4 linked regions of the Homo sapiens genome follow. The protein of the gene in region 1 purifies or fractionates together with the protein of each later gene. This does not show direct contact. Each region holds a gene or a part of one and is shown on either strand. Other genes may lie near its edges.

Region 1 (3,757 bases):
GCAGCCTGGGAACCTAAGGGTCTCACTGGCAGAAAGTGGAGCAGCCGGGATCTGAATGCGGGAACCTGTGTTCTTTCTTAGCCAGGACGCCGGGGCTTCCCATACATGTGGCTCCTTCAAATGACATATTTACTTATTTACGTACCGAGTAACTGAGTAACTTCTTCAACACAGGATGACATCACAACTTCACCAAAGTTAACTCACCCTCATCTCAGCATCTGTAGCTCTGCCATCTATTTTAGCAAATCCCTCAAAAATTGTTTTGTAGAGAATGTTCCTGCGTGTGTTGCTGTCGTCTGGAGGAAGGTACTCCAGGATGGAAGCCTGGTGCTGTCTGTACATGTCCAAAATAATTCGAACCGCCGTCTCGCGGACCTCATACACTCTATGCTCCAGGGCACTCACTGAAAACTAAAGTTGGGAGGGGCTCTTGTTACTCATTCTTAAAATAAAACTAATTTCTTCCAGCTTACAAAAAAGGTACATTATAAACATGTGAAAAATAAAAGAGAAAACATCCGTATTAAGTATTATGAAATACTTCAAACATAAAACCTCACGGATCTACCGTCTCATCGTAAGCCGTGTTATACTTTCATCACGCTTGTTTTGGATCTTTTTTAAGAAACAGAACGCTGTGGCTATAGTGCAATTTCATCCCTGCTGTGCGTCTCGGGGGCCCACAGTTTCTCATCCTCCTTGGAGGTGTGCGCTCCTGCGTAGCCGATGTGCAGATTTCAGGTTTTTGGATTTGGGATCCAAACCAGTAAGTATAATGGAAGTATTCCAGAATCCGAAAACAATCTGAAATCCTAAACACTTCTGGTCTTAAGCATTCCAGATAAGGGGCTTCAACCTGTACCTGATATTCTCCATCACACTGCTGTTATTGTCTCTTAAAGACAGGCCGGGCGCAGTGGCTCACGCCTGTAATCCCAGCACTTTGGGAGGCTGAGGCGGGCGGATCACGAGGTCAGGAGATCGAGACCATCCTGGCTAACACAGTGAAACCCCGTCTCTACTAAAATACACGAAAAAATTAGCCGGGCATGGTGGTGGGCATCCTGTAGTACCAGCTACTTGGGAGGCTGAGGCAGGAGAATGGCATGAACCCAGGAGGCAGGGCTTGCAGTGAGCCGAGATGGCACCACTGCACCTCCAGCCTGGGCGACAGAACGAGACTCCATCTCAAAAAAAAAAAAAAAAAAAGACAAAGAAATATTTTTTATGATTTGTTTCTCTCCACAGATAAAGATCTGCACACACCATGCACCACCGAGTAGGATTAGACAGCAGGACGCATGTGGGGGCCCCCATTTGTTGGATGAAACACTGGCTATTTTTCTGAAATCACTGCCTCAGTCATTCCTTCAACAAATGCCGATGAGACCCTCGCCACGCTCCAGGCACTGTGGTGAGTGCTGGGCCGCGTGGTGTGTCACACGCGAGGTCTGCTTACCTTCATCACGTTGTCAATGGTGAAGCCCGAGCTGCCAGTGCCCAGGTCTTTCAGCAGCCGGGCCAGGAGGCCCATCTGACTCATTGCCAGGTGAACTGAAGAGTTTGCTTTCAATGGCTGCACCAGGTAGGATGGAATAATTTGGAGAGACTTAACTTCTTTAAACAAGGCCATTTCCTATGAAAGCCAAGGTAATTTGTTAATTTTTACTGGAAAATGCTGGAGGCAGTTTAGTACAATTCAGCATGATCTTAAACTAAACACTGAAGGGAAAAACAGGGAAATACAGATTGATAGTGACAAGGAGCAATGAGAGCACTGATCCGTAAGCTTGTATTTCTATTTAAAGCGTAACAACCATTAGAAATGAAAATCTGAGCCACAGGAAATAAAATCATGAAGAATAAAACGATTTTATGTCTACTGAAAGCTTTTCAGAAGCGTAATTGAAAACTTGAAGGTTTCTGTTCTCAGTATTCTCAGCTTCAAGGAAAAGGTTTTCTCATTTCTAAAATTCTAAAAGAAATTAGAGCTGCTGCTAGAATCACCGTTATTTTAGTATTTATTAAATGTCAGCCAAGAGTGTATGATTCTGCAGTGATACGGTCACCAGTGGGTTAAGATGGAAAAAATGTAAGTACCATTACATATTTGAATGTCTCTAAACAAACAAGTCTTTACGTAATTAAGATATTTATCACTTAATTAACCGGATATAGAGAAAAAAATAAGATGTTGAATCATTAAGTTACAATCAGAAATAAACCTGTTTCCAATAGGTCTGCAGGTCTTATCACCTAAAATAATCTCTTATCGTGCTGGCCTGACTCACTCTGGATTTGGGCCTGTGAGTGACTCTGTACAAATCTAAAAGCTAAGAGAAGAAGAGCATTCTCCAGGGAAGTTTGGACAGTAAACTCCTTAACTACAAACAGATGCTGTTGAGTGTGTATTTCGTCCACTAACCGGCACACTGGTGCACAATTGTAACCCTCGATAGATTGCCTTAAGGTTGTCTCACATAGAGAGAACATTTGAGCACCACCAAACTGCTCAGAAATTAATGTGGCTTAAAAATAATTAAATGAAGCAATAACATGTGCTCATTTGCAACATATCTTTTGAAAGATGAACCCTCCTCACCCCCAAATTCTAGCTGTCATAACCAGGAGTGTATTGTAGCACATTAGGTCGTAACCAGGAGTGTATTGTAACCAGGAGTGTATTGTAACCAGGAGTGTATTGTAACCAGGAGTGTATTGTAGGTCGTAACCAGGAGTGTAGTGTAGGTCGTAACCAGGAGTGTAGTGTAGCACATTAGGTCGTAACCAGGAGTGTAGCGTAGGTCGTGACCAGGAGTGTAGCGTAGGTCCTGACCAGGAGTGTAGCGTAGGTCGTGACCAGGAGTGTAGCGTAGGTCGTGACCAGGAGTGTAGCGTAGGTCGTGACCAGGAGTGTAGTGTAGGTCGTGACCAGGAGTGTAGTGTAGGTCATAACCAGGAGTGTAGTGTAGCACATTAGCATGACAGCATTTCTTCTTACCTTTTTATTAGCATTCCTTTTCCTTATTTACTCTGAAAATTTAGGTTTATTAAATGAAACTAGATCTGTGGTTCCTCATATTTTGGAGAAATGACCCCTTTGGATTCTTCTTTTTGAGACACTGTCTTTCTCTGTCACCCAGGCTAGAGTACAGTGGCGAGATCACGGCTCACTGCAGCCTCAACCACCTGGGCTCAAGCCTCTCGCCTCGGCCTTCCAAGTAGCTGGGACTACAGGGGTGTATCAGCATGCCCGGCTAATTTTTGTATTTTTTGCAGAGATAGAGTCTCACTATGTTGGCCAGGCTGGTCTCAAACTCCTGGGCCCAAATGATCTGCCTGCCTTGGTCTCCCAAAGTGCTGGGATTATGGGCGTGAGCCACCCCGCCTGGCCTGGATTCTTTTTTTTTTTTTTTTAAGATGGAGTCTCACTCTGTTGCCAGGCTGGAGTGCAGTGGCGTGATCTCGGCTCACTGAAAACTCTGCCTCCCGGGTTCGATTCTCCTGCCTCAGCCTCCCAAGTAGCTGGGACGACAGGCACGCACCACCACACCCGGCTAATTTTTGGATTTTTAGTACAGAAGGGGTTTCACCAGGTTGGCTAGGATAGTCTCGATCTCCTAACCTTGTGATCCACCTGCCTGAGCCTCCCAAAGTGCTGGGATTACAGGTGTGAGCCACCGTGCCCAGTCTGGCCTGGATTCTTTTTTAAGAAGGATCTGCACATCACAAAATTTTGTGTAAAACTTAACGT
Region 2 (3,082 bases), on another chromosome or scaffold:
TTTTTTTTTAAATAGGTCTCCATCATCACCAGTTCCAGTAGTGAAAAACAGAACCCAACAAACTCAAAATACATTACATTTACCACTAAAAAACAGTAGCTATGAGAGAGAGAATTTGATCTCAGGAAGTAATCAAACAGAATTATCATCTGGGATTTCTGAATCATCCCATTTTATTCCGTATGTTCGAACAAATGAGATCTATTACCTTGATCCCGATGCACCATTGTCTGGGCCTTCAACCCAGGACCCTCAGTACCAAAATTCACAAGGTAAGTAAATATTAAGCATTCTAACTGTAAAAATTGAAGACCCATGTAAACCCCGTCAACAACTTTAAATTCCAAATTAGTAATTCCTGCACTTAGTTCTATAAAGTTTCTTGAATATGTCTTAAATTTTTCTTAGTACTTTCCTAGGATACATACTTATTATAATGACTCCTGACAATATTATATAGCACAGGGCTATGTCATTTTACTAATGTAATTGACTGACTTGTTACTTTCATCTGGCTTTAGACTGTGGCCAAAAACGACAGCTATTTGATTCTGACTGTGTCAGGGATCCACTTCTTAATCCTAACATGGTGAAAAATAGGGATCGACAGCAAGCAATCCTTAAGGGACTTTCAGAACTGAGACAGGTATGAGCTTTTTCAAGTGTAGATATGTCTGTTCTTTATGTGGCGTGGGCGGTTGGGGGAACCTGTTGAACGGTTTGTTTTAAGTTACTTCGGTGCATCCCAGGATTTAACAAAAATATTTCAGTTCCTGTATGTTTGTTAGACACAAATAAAATGGGACTTTCCTAAGACTTGCTTTTACACTGCCGTCTTTGAGTAGTTCTTTCCAGTACGAAATCATCAGACAGTTCTAAAATTAAGACAAGTTTATTGAGTAAAAAAATGCATACATTGGAACGGCAAAACATCAATAAGGCCCTAAAACAAAAAATACAGTTATGCTTTAACAAATTCTTAGCAATGTGGCCCACGCTTTTTAAAAAATTGACGTGTTGGCAGTGTTTGTTAGAACATTGACGTACATCCCAAATAGTAATAAATTCAGTATGAAATTATACGCATAACCTTACTCACCATACTACTTTTTCTCCCAAACTATTGTGACTTCTTTTTGCTCTCTGATTAAAACAAACAGGTAACATCCTTACACCTTTGCTCCATCCCTTGGGCTTTAAAAAGAATGGCTGTAGTTAGTTTTGATTCACTATATACTCTCTGTACTTGAGGAAGAGTAAGCTGTGTTTAAAAGTGCCCTTTTCCATGTCGTCATGTACCAATACCCTCTGCATTTCAAAATGTTGACTCAGATGTTTTTCCCTCTACAGAACTAGAAAATTGTCCCCCCACTTTGGTCTATTTACTCATTTGAAGACAAACAGGGTTACTAAGAGTTTTACATAAGTTATTTCTTTAGAGTGACGAAGTGTTAGTTTACTTCTTGCTTAGTGGAGACAAAAATTGTGAGATAAAGAGGAAGGAATAGGATGTACACATTTACCCATCAATATAGCACCCAGTGTTATTTCAGCAGGACCCTTCTGTTAGCATCTAAGGTAAGGTTAGGACAGTCAAGATAAAATACTGGATGTTGGCCAGGAGCAGTGGCTCAAGCCTGTAATCCCAGCACTTTGGGAGGCTGAGGCAGGCAGATCATGAGGTCAGGAGATCAAGACCATCCTGGCTAACACAGTGAAACCCTGTCTCTACTAAAAATACAAAAAGTTAGTTAGTTAGTTAGCCAGGCGTGGTGGTGGGTGCCTGTAGTCCCAGCCATTCGGGAGGTTGAGGCAGGAGAATGGTGTGAACCTGGGAGGCAGAGCTTGCAGTGAGATTGCACCACTGTACTCCAGCTTGGGCGACAGAGCGAGACTCCATCTCCAAAAAAAAACAAAACAACAACAACAAAAAAAAAACACTGTATGTTAAGGGAGACTCCTTCAGTATCTAAGAGCACTTGGGGGTGGACTGGGGGAGAAGGGATGACTTCATTTACCCCCATAGTTATGGAGTCTTGAGTTCTAAGAAAATTTTCATCCCTATTGATTTTTATGCTAAAAACAGAATCTTACAAATGTGATAGCTATATATCCAAATGAGGTGGTCTAGTACAAGCATTTCTGAAAAAATTTTTGAATGACAAAATTTTATCCTAAGCGATATGTTTTCCAAGTGAATATAATTCTAGTTTAACACAACATTGCAAGTCAGGTGTGCACATTTTACTAACAAACATATATCAATGTGATTTCAGGGCCTTCTCCAGAAGCAAAAGGAGTTGGAAAGTAGTCTCCTGCCTTTAGCTGAAAATCAAGAAGAGAGTTTTGGTTCTTCATTTTAAATGTAGAAAATCAAATCCTTCACATTTGATTTGTGTCTTCCAAATTATAAAATGTGCTCACTGGCTCAACTGTATTTTTCAAATAGCCTAGATTTACTTATTTTTTTAAATGCTCATTAAAAACTTGTATACTATGTAGTAAAATGCTGTACTTGTTCTATACAATAAAACAGATACTTCTTTTGTAAAAGCTTAGTAGTAAAAAAAAAAAAAAAAAAACCGGTTCTTCTGCTCTGTCACCACCTGGGTATTGAAGCCCTATAAAAACACTTTCTACTTACCTTAATATAGTCTGGCGTTGCTGGGACCTCACAGTGTTCTTTCACACTTTTTATGTAACTTAGGAACTGAAATACCACTCATGCATTTGTTCTAAAGTGCCAAAGTTCTGTCTAACTTATTAACACGTCTAGACCCATAACTCCATAACTTTTACTGAAATAACACAAATTCAGTTTAGGCTCCTTCTCTAAATCCTGACATTTATTTGCACTATGACATTTATTTGTAGAAATTGCAATTTTCAAAAACATTTTTAAAAGTTAGCATTAGTAACAAGTTAGTAATTAGTATTAGAGGCAGTAGTTAGGAATAGATACGGGTTTGAAAGCTATCTCCACTGTATCTGTCTAGTATAGCATTAATGTGTTCAACAAATGGTAATTACTACTAAGACCACCTCAAAAATATATTCCCATTATACTTCCATTTTGCTAAAA
Region 3 (3,500 bases), on another chromosome or scaffold:
GTCCCAGCTATTGGGGAAGCTGAGGCAGGAGGATTGGATCACTTGAGCCCAGGAGATCAAGGCTACAGTGAGCTTATGAGCATGCCACTGTACTCCAGCCTGGGCAACAGAGCAAGACCCCATCTCAAAAAAAAACACTAAAAATAGAAATATATATATATATATATATTTACATATATAGTTTTAGCAAAATATACTTCAAATCAACAAAAGTTGATAAATTCTGGCCAATTTCTTTTGTTGTTTTTTGTTTTTTAGAGATGAGGTCTCGCTCTGCTGCCCAGGCTAGTGTGCAGTGGCACGATCATAGTTCATTGTAACTTTGAACTGCTAAGCTCAAGTGATCCTCCATGTTGGCCACCAGAATCACTGGGATTATAACTGCCAGCAACCACACTCAGCTTATTTCAGCTTTTTTTTTTTTTTTTTGAGATGGAGTCTCGCTCTGTCACCTAGGCTGGAGTGCAGTGGCGCGATCTCGGCTCACTGCAAGCTCCACCTCCCGGGGTCATGCCATTCTCCTGCCTCAGCCTCCCGAGTAGCTGAGATTACAGGTGCCCACCACCATGCCCAGCTAATTTTTTTGTATTATTAGTAGAGACAGGGTTTCACTGTGTTAGCCAGGATGGTCTCAATCTCCTGACCTCGTGATCCGCCTGCCTCGGCCTCCCAAAGTGCTGGGATTACAGGTGTGAGCCACCGTCCCGACTTATTTCAGCCATTTTTAATTTGCTAATAGTCACGAAAGATTTTTCCTAGTAAAAATTCTGAACTCAACAGCAAACAAGTTTTCATGTTTAAAACAATCAATCCTCAAAATCCTCTAATCTTCCCTAAATATTCTATGTCTGATAGGAATAAAATGATGAGATAACGCATATATTTTGCTATAGAATTTTGCACAGAATTTAAACAGAAATGTCATTTATCTAGGTTGGGGGCGGTGGCTCACGCCTGTAATCCCAGCACTTTGGGAGTGTGAGGCAGGTGGATCACCTGAGGTCAGGAGTTCGAGACCAGCCTGGCCAATATGGCGAAACCCCGTCTCTACTAAAAATACAAAAATTAGCCAGGCATGGTGGTATATACCTGTAATCCCAACTACCGGGGGACACTGAGGCAGGAGAATCGCTTGAACCAGGCAGGTGGAAGTTGCAGTGAGCCGAGATCATGCCACTGCACTCCAGTCTGGGCAACAGAGTGAGACTCCATCTCAAAAAAAAAAAAAAGAAAGAAAAGAAAAAAAAGAAATGTCATTTATCTAAAAAGAAAAAAAAAACAGTAACATGCCACCTTCACATGGAACTAAGGTTTCCATACCACCTAATAACAATTATTAATTTAACATGTTCATTTACATGTTGTTCTAACCAGGCTTTGAAAGATCTCCCTCTTGAATTTATAGATGCTTATCTTTCTCTTTACTGTAATTATTTAACATTATAAATTATAGAACTGATTTTAACTTACAGTAATCAAAAGTACAAAAAGTACAAATAAAACATACTTTTAAACAACCATAGTAAATATAGCATATGCCATAACTAAAACATAAGATTTATCCGAGATATAAGTACATTTCTAATCATTTCTAAATTTTTCCTGTATCTAATCTGATTAGATTATAATGACTTTAATATTAAAGAGTCAAAGACACTAATGAGCTTTCTCCTGGTAATGATCTCCAGCCAAAGAACACCAGGAAAACTACCACAGTTAAGTTGGATGTACTACTCATTGCATTAAGGAATGCACGGAGAACACACACCATGGGGAACCCTGTGGTATCGTGGTAAGAGGGTATTGGAAAAGACTTATATGTGTTGGGTGATTTGGGGGAAGGCTTAATTTGAGGAAGTGGAGCTTTGCTCAGGATTGAACACTGTTAGAAGTGGGGTTAATTCTATGATGGTACCACTCAATAAATCTAAAATATAGGGGGAGGCTAATGCTGTAACTGGTAAACAAGCAGTAGTCATTCACATCAGCTGGGAAAGGGAATGTTTGGTATCTCGGTTCTTGGACAATATTTACGTTTTGTCTGTGTTTGGAGACACTGATGGAATGTTTTTGTCTTGATCCATCATAGACACAGAGCGGCCTTATCTGATGTTGACATTCTGTACAATAGTTTATCTTCAACAGAAAAACACAAAGTTACTGTGAATGCCAGGCTAGTTTCTAGCAATACCAGTTTCTAGATATCACGGCCACTTTTCTTTTTCTCACTCCTAAAAGCATGTGGTAACTTACAGAAAACATATTTCAACTACACAATTATTCAAGAATTACTTGGTGAATCACAGAGACTGGGTTAATAAATATGGCATAGGTACAATATAGAGTAAGAAAGTTTATAATTTAAGGATTAAGTTGCCAAAAATAAATCAGCTGAAAGAAACCTAAATGAGATTATTTATATATGACACTCTACAATATAAAGTCACTCACAACTTTTTTCAAGACATCATGGCCAAGTATTATTTCTCCAGTAGCTGTGTACATAGTATGTAGATGATAAACAGTTTTCAGGAAAATAGTTTAATTGAAAGAACTGAGTTTGAAATATACTTCTATCACTTATTGATCTCAACATGAATGACCTCAAGCATGTTCCTTAACTGCTCTATGCCTAATCTATAAAACAGAAATATCATTTATTCTAGTATATTATGAAGAAAAAAGAAAATAATGCATATAAAAATTATGACAGAGAACCTAACACTTAGAAATCAACAGATCAGGCCAGGCGCAGTGGCCCATGCCTGTAATCCCAGCACTGTGGGAAGCCAAGGAGAGTGGATCACCTGAGGTTAGGAGTTTGAGACCAGTCTGGCTAACACAGCAAAACCCATCTCCACTAAAAATACAAAAATTAGCCAGGCATGGTGGCACACCTCTGTAGTCCCAGCTACTCAGGAGGCTGAGGCAGGAGAATTGCTTGAACCCAGGAAGCAGAGGCTGTAGTGAGCCCAGATCACGCCACTGTACTACAGCCTCGATGACAGAGCAATACTCTGTCAAAAAAAAAAAAAAAAGAAATCAACAGATCAATTCTTTTATTGTTTATGGTTGTATCTTTACAGTCTTTGCATATATGAAGATTTACCTCTTAAAAACAGAGCCTGCAGCCGCGCGTTGTGGCTCACACCTGTAATCCCAACACTTTGGGAGGCCGAGGCGGGCGGATCACGAGGTCAGGAGATCAAGACCATCCTGGCTAACACGGTGAAACCCCGTCTCTACTAAAAGTACAAAAAATTAGCCAGGCTTGGTGGCAGGCGCCTGTAGTTCCAGCTACTCAGAAGGCTGAGGCAGGAGAATGGAGTGAACCTGGGAGGCAGAGCTTGCAGTGAGCTGAGATCGTGCCACTGCACTCCAGCCTAGGTGACAGAGCGAGACTCTTGTCTCAAAAACCAAAACAAACAAACAAACAAACAAAAAAAACAGAGCCTGCAAACGTAAAGTATGCTGAGATTTAAATAATCAATAATTGATAC
Region 4 (3,500 bases), on another chromosome or scaffold:
CTCCCAAAATGCTGGGATTATAGGCGTGAGCCACCACACTCAGTCAGATCTCTTCTGAGTCTGTAACCTTACATTTTTCTGCCACTGCCTCCCCACCTCCTTTCTCTCCACTTCAATCCAATTTCTACACTTTTAACAAGTGAGCATTCCCCTCCTGCTTGGGACCCTCCTGTGGTTCCAGCGCCCTCCAGATGAAGGCCAGGCTCCTTAGGCTCAACTCCCAAAGCCCTAGACAACTTGGCCTCTGACACACTCCCATTTGTTCTGTAAACCTGAGCCACACTGGCCACTGTGTGGTTCCTGTGGACACCCACTGAACACCCAAAGCACACGCCTGCCCTCGTGAACTCTGGCTCACTGCCCTTCCTTCAGATACGTCTCATTCAGGTCTCTGCCTAACTGTCACCTCCTCAGAGAGTCTTGCCCTGACCACCCTTTCTAAGAGGTCGGCCCATCACTTCTCAGCCCTTTGTACTGCTTGATTTTTCTCAACAGCACCTGACAGGTGTTCCCCTGTGCCTAGACCAGTGCCTGGCACACAGTACAGGCTCAAAAACATGGACGGAGTGGAAATTGATTCCAGACATGAAGAAAACAGCGCAAGGAAAGGGACAGAACCTGAAGGAGACGGGTATGGGGTTATTTTAGATAGAGTGGTTGATGGCCTCACTGGGAATGTGACATTTCAGCAAAGATTGAGCACCTGGATCTGGGGAAGATGGCTTTGTTAGTGCACAGGCCTCAGGCTGAAGAGCTCTGCAGTCTTGGGGTATTGGGATGTAGCTAGGGGTGAGGCAGACAGCAGCAGGCAATGGGGGGCCGGGGCCAGGTCAGGTGGGCCTTACAGAGCTGGTAAGTGGCTTGGACATTAGGCTGACAGTAACAGGAGGCTCAGAGAGAGTATGGAGGAGGGGACTGACACCACTGATGTCCTTTTTTTTTTTTTTTTTTTTTCCTGAGACAGAGTTTCCCTCTGTTGCCCAGGCTAGAGTGCAGTGACATGATCATAGCTCACTGCAGCCTCAAACTCCTGGACTCAAGCAGTCCTCCCACCTCAGCCTCCTGAGTAGCTGGGCCTACAGAGTGTGCCACTATGCCCCAAGTCTTTTGTTTTCTGGTTTTTTCATTTGTTTGGTTTTTGGTGAGGTTTTTTTTTGTTTGTTTGTTTTTGAGACAGAGTCTCGCTGTTGTTGCTTGGGCTGGAGTAGAATGGCACAATCTTGGCTCACTGCAACCTCCACCTCCGGGGTTCCAGCAATTCTCCTGCTTCAGCCTCCCGAGTAGCTGGGATTACAGGCACCCGCCACCATGCCTAGCTAATTTTTGTATTTTTAGTAGAGACGGGGTTTTACCACGTTGGCCAGGCTGGTCTCGAACTCCTGACCTCAGGTGATCCACCTGCCTCGGCCTCCCAAAGTGCTGGGATTACAGGCATGAGCCACCACGCCCAGCCTTGGTTTTTTCAGAGACAGGATTTCACCATTGCTCAGGCTGGTCTTGAACTCCTGGGCTCAATCCTCCCTCCTCTGCCTCCCAAAGTGCTGGGATTACAGGGGTGAGCCACCACGCCCGGCTGCTGATGTCCATTTTTTAATATGCATGTTGCCTGCTCTACAGAGAAGACTGGAGGGGAGTGGGAAGAGGGAGATGAGTACTGCTCAGGCCACGCCAGCCATGAGCATCATTTGGATAAGCAAGAGGGGCCATGAGCGCTGTGAGTCCAGATGGAAAAGGCAGAAGAGGCACAATCTGCAGACCAGTTAGTTGTGGGACATGAGGGGAAGAAGGGAAGGAAGAACCCTGGGATCTGAGCAGCTGGCCGAAGAGTATGTGATTTGCTGAGTCAACGAAAACCTGGGGAAGGACTGTTTTGAGGTCAAACCAAGAGCTCTGTTTTGGCTATAAGTCTGAGCTGCCTGTTAGACATTCCAGTGGAGGTTCCGAAATGGTCAGTGGGTATTGTAAGAACCAAAGAAAGAGGAGAGAGGAGAGAAACACGAAGGGTGGCTCGACAGTCAACAGGTTTATTTCAAACCTGGGAGGGACTTCCGACCGAGTTAGGTCAGAGCCACACTCTCCTACAGACTAAGAGTTTTTAAGGATTCAGGGTGGGAGAGTTTATCAAAGGCTTGAACTGTTTCTGTGTCTCTCTGTTGTGCTTATCTGGGAGGGAGAGTTGTGTGTCTGTTCCTATACAACTTTCTGCAGCTGCAGGCATACCCCCCAAGTCTGCTTTTAGCTTCCCTTAGTGCACCTGAAGGGAACAGAATGTCCTTATTAAGGCCCACTGTTATACTGAGGCCCATTGTAAGAGGGTGAAGTTTGGCCGTTACCCAGGAAACAAACCTGTTGACTGTCAAGTCACCCTTCGTGTTTCTCTCCTCTTTCTTTAATTCTTACAGATATATGAGCCTGGAGTTTAAGGGAGAAGCAGGAACGGCATTCAGAGGGATAGCAGAGAATATGGGTGCTGAGCAAAGACACAGATTTAGTGATTAGAAGTGAAACAGGCTGGGTGCAGTGGCTCACACCTGTAATCTTGGCACTTTGGGACACCAAGGCAGGCAGATCACTTGAGCTCATGAGTTCGAGACCAGCCTGGGCAACGTGGTGAAACCTCATCTCTACAGAAATACAAAAATTAGCTGGGTGTGGTGGTGTGTGCCTGTAATCCCAGCTACTGGGGAGGATGAGACAGGAGGATCACTTGAACCAGGAAGGTCAAGGCTGTAGTGAGCCGGGATCACGCCATGGCACTCCAGCCTAGGTGACAAAGTAAGACCCTGTCTCAAAAAAAAAAAAAAAAAAAAAGTGAAACAAGAAACAAGATCAGCTGGGCACGGTGGCTCACGCCTGTAATCCCAGCACTTTGGGAGGCCAAGGCAGGCAGATCGCCTGATGCTGGGAGTTCAAGACCAGCCTGACCAGCATGGTAAAACCCCATCTCTACTAAAAATACAAAAATTAGCCGGGTGTGGTGGCAGGCACCTGTAATCCCAGCTACTCTGGAAGCTGAGGCAGGAGAATCGCTTGAACCCAGGAAGTGGAGGTTGCAATGAGCCGAGATCGTGCCATTGCACTCCATCCTGGGCAACAGAGTGAGACTCTGTCAAAAAAAAAAAAAAAAGAAAGAAAGAAAAAAGGTCATCGGCTGCAAGTAAGAAGCATGGTGACAGTTCGAAGAGAAGGGAGAGTGGGAACGGAAGGGAGGGTGGGAACCAAAGCGACTACAGCAACATGGCAGGGTTGCTGGTATTATAGTCCATTTAAGATCTCTGCACTTGAATCTAAAATGGAATCAGTCTGCACAGTTTTGCAGCTCTTCTCCAGGCACTTTCAGCTATCTGAGTTAGGTTAACCAATGTGAGAGGTTCTTCTAGAAGAGAGAGGAAAGGGAAAACAGTACAACCACGATGGGACACTGGAACTAATCAGGTTAAGAATGGGGGAGGGGAACACACATAAGGCGGCTGCAGAGCAGTGAGGAAGCAGTGGGGTCT

Evidence for each region.
Region 2: the proteins of CEP104 (region 1) and CCDC66 purify together in Homo sapiens (co-immunoprecipitation; one large-scale study listed by IntAct). This does not show direct contact.
Region 3: the proteins of CEP104 (region 1) and CSPP1 purify together in Homo sapiens (co-immunoprecipitation; one large-scale study listed by IntAct). This does not show direct contact.
Region 4: the proteins of CEP104 (region 1) and ARMC9 purify together in Homo sapiens (co-immunoprecipitation; one large-scale study listed by IntAct). This does not show direct contact.

What each region holds. Positions count from the first base shown.
Region 1 is NC_000001.11:3,829,584-3,833,340, forward strand, and holds part of CEP104 (centrosomal protein of 104 kDa), read right to left. Parts: intron 1,640-3,757; coding exon 1,463-1,639; intron 415-1,462; coding exon 208-414; intron 1-207. UniProt on the Homo sapiens protein: Required for ciliogenesis and for structural integrity at the ciliary tip.
Region 2 is NC_000003.12:56,619,256-56,622,337, forward strand, and holds the end of CCDC66 (coiled-coil domain-containing protein 66), read left to right. Parts: intron 1-15; coding exon 16-272; intron 273-521; coding exon 522-646; intron 647-876; exon of another isoform or gene 877-2,276; coding exon 2,277-2,363; 3' UTR 2,364-2,582; downstream 2,583-3,082. UniProt on the Homo sapiens protein: Microtubule-binding protein required for ciliogenesis. May function in ciliogenesis by mediating the transport of proteins like BBS4 to the cilium, but also through the organization of the centriolar satellites.
Region 3 is NC_000008.11:67,067,392-67,070,891, reverse strand, and holds part of CSPP1 (centrosome and spindle pole-associated protein 1), read right to left. Parts: intron 2,793-3,500; exon of another isoform or gene 2,088-2,792; coding exon of another isoform or gene 2,035-2,087; intron 1-2,034. UniProt on the Homo sapiens protein: May play a role in cell-cycle-dependent microtubule organization.
Region 4 is NC_000002.12:231,201,631-231,205,130, reverse strand, and holds part of ARMC9 (lisH domain-containing protein ARMC9), read right to left. Parts: intron 1-3,500. UniProt on the Homo sapiens protein: Involved in ciliogenesis. It is required for appropriate acetylation and polyglutamylation of ciliary microtubules, and regulation of cilium length. Acts as a positive regulator of hedgehog (Hh)signaling.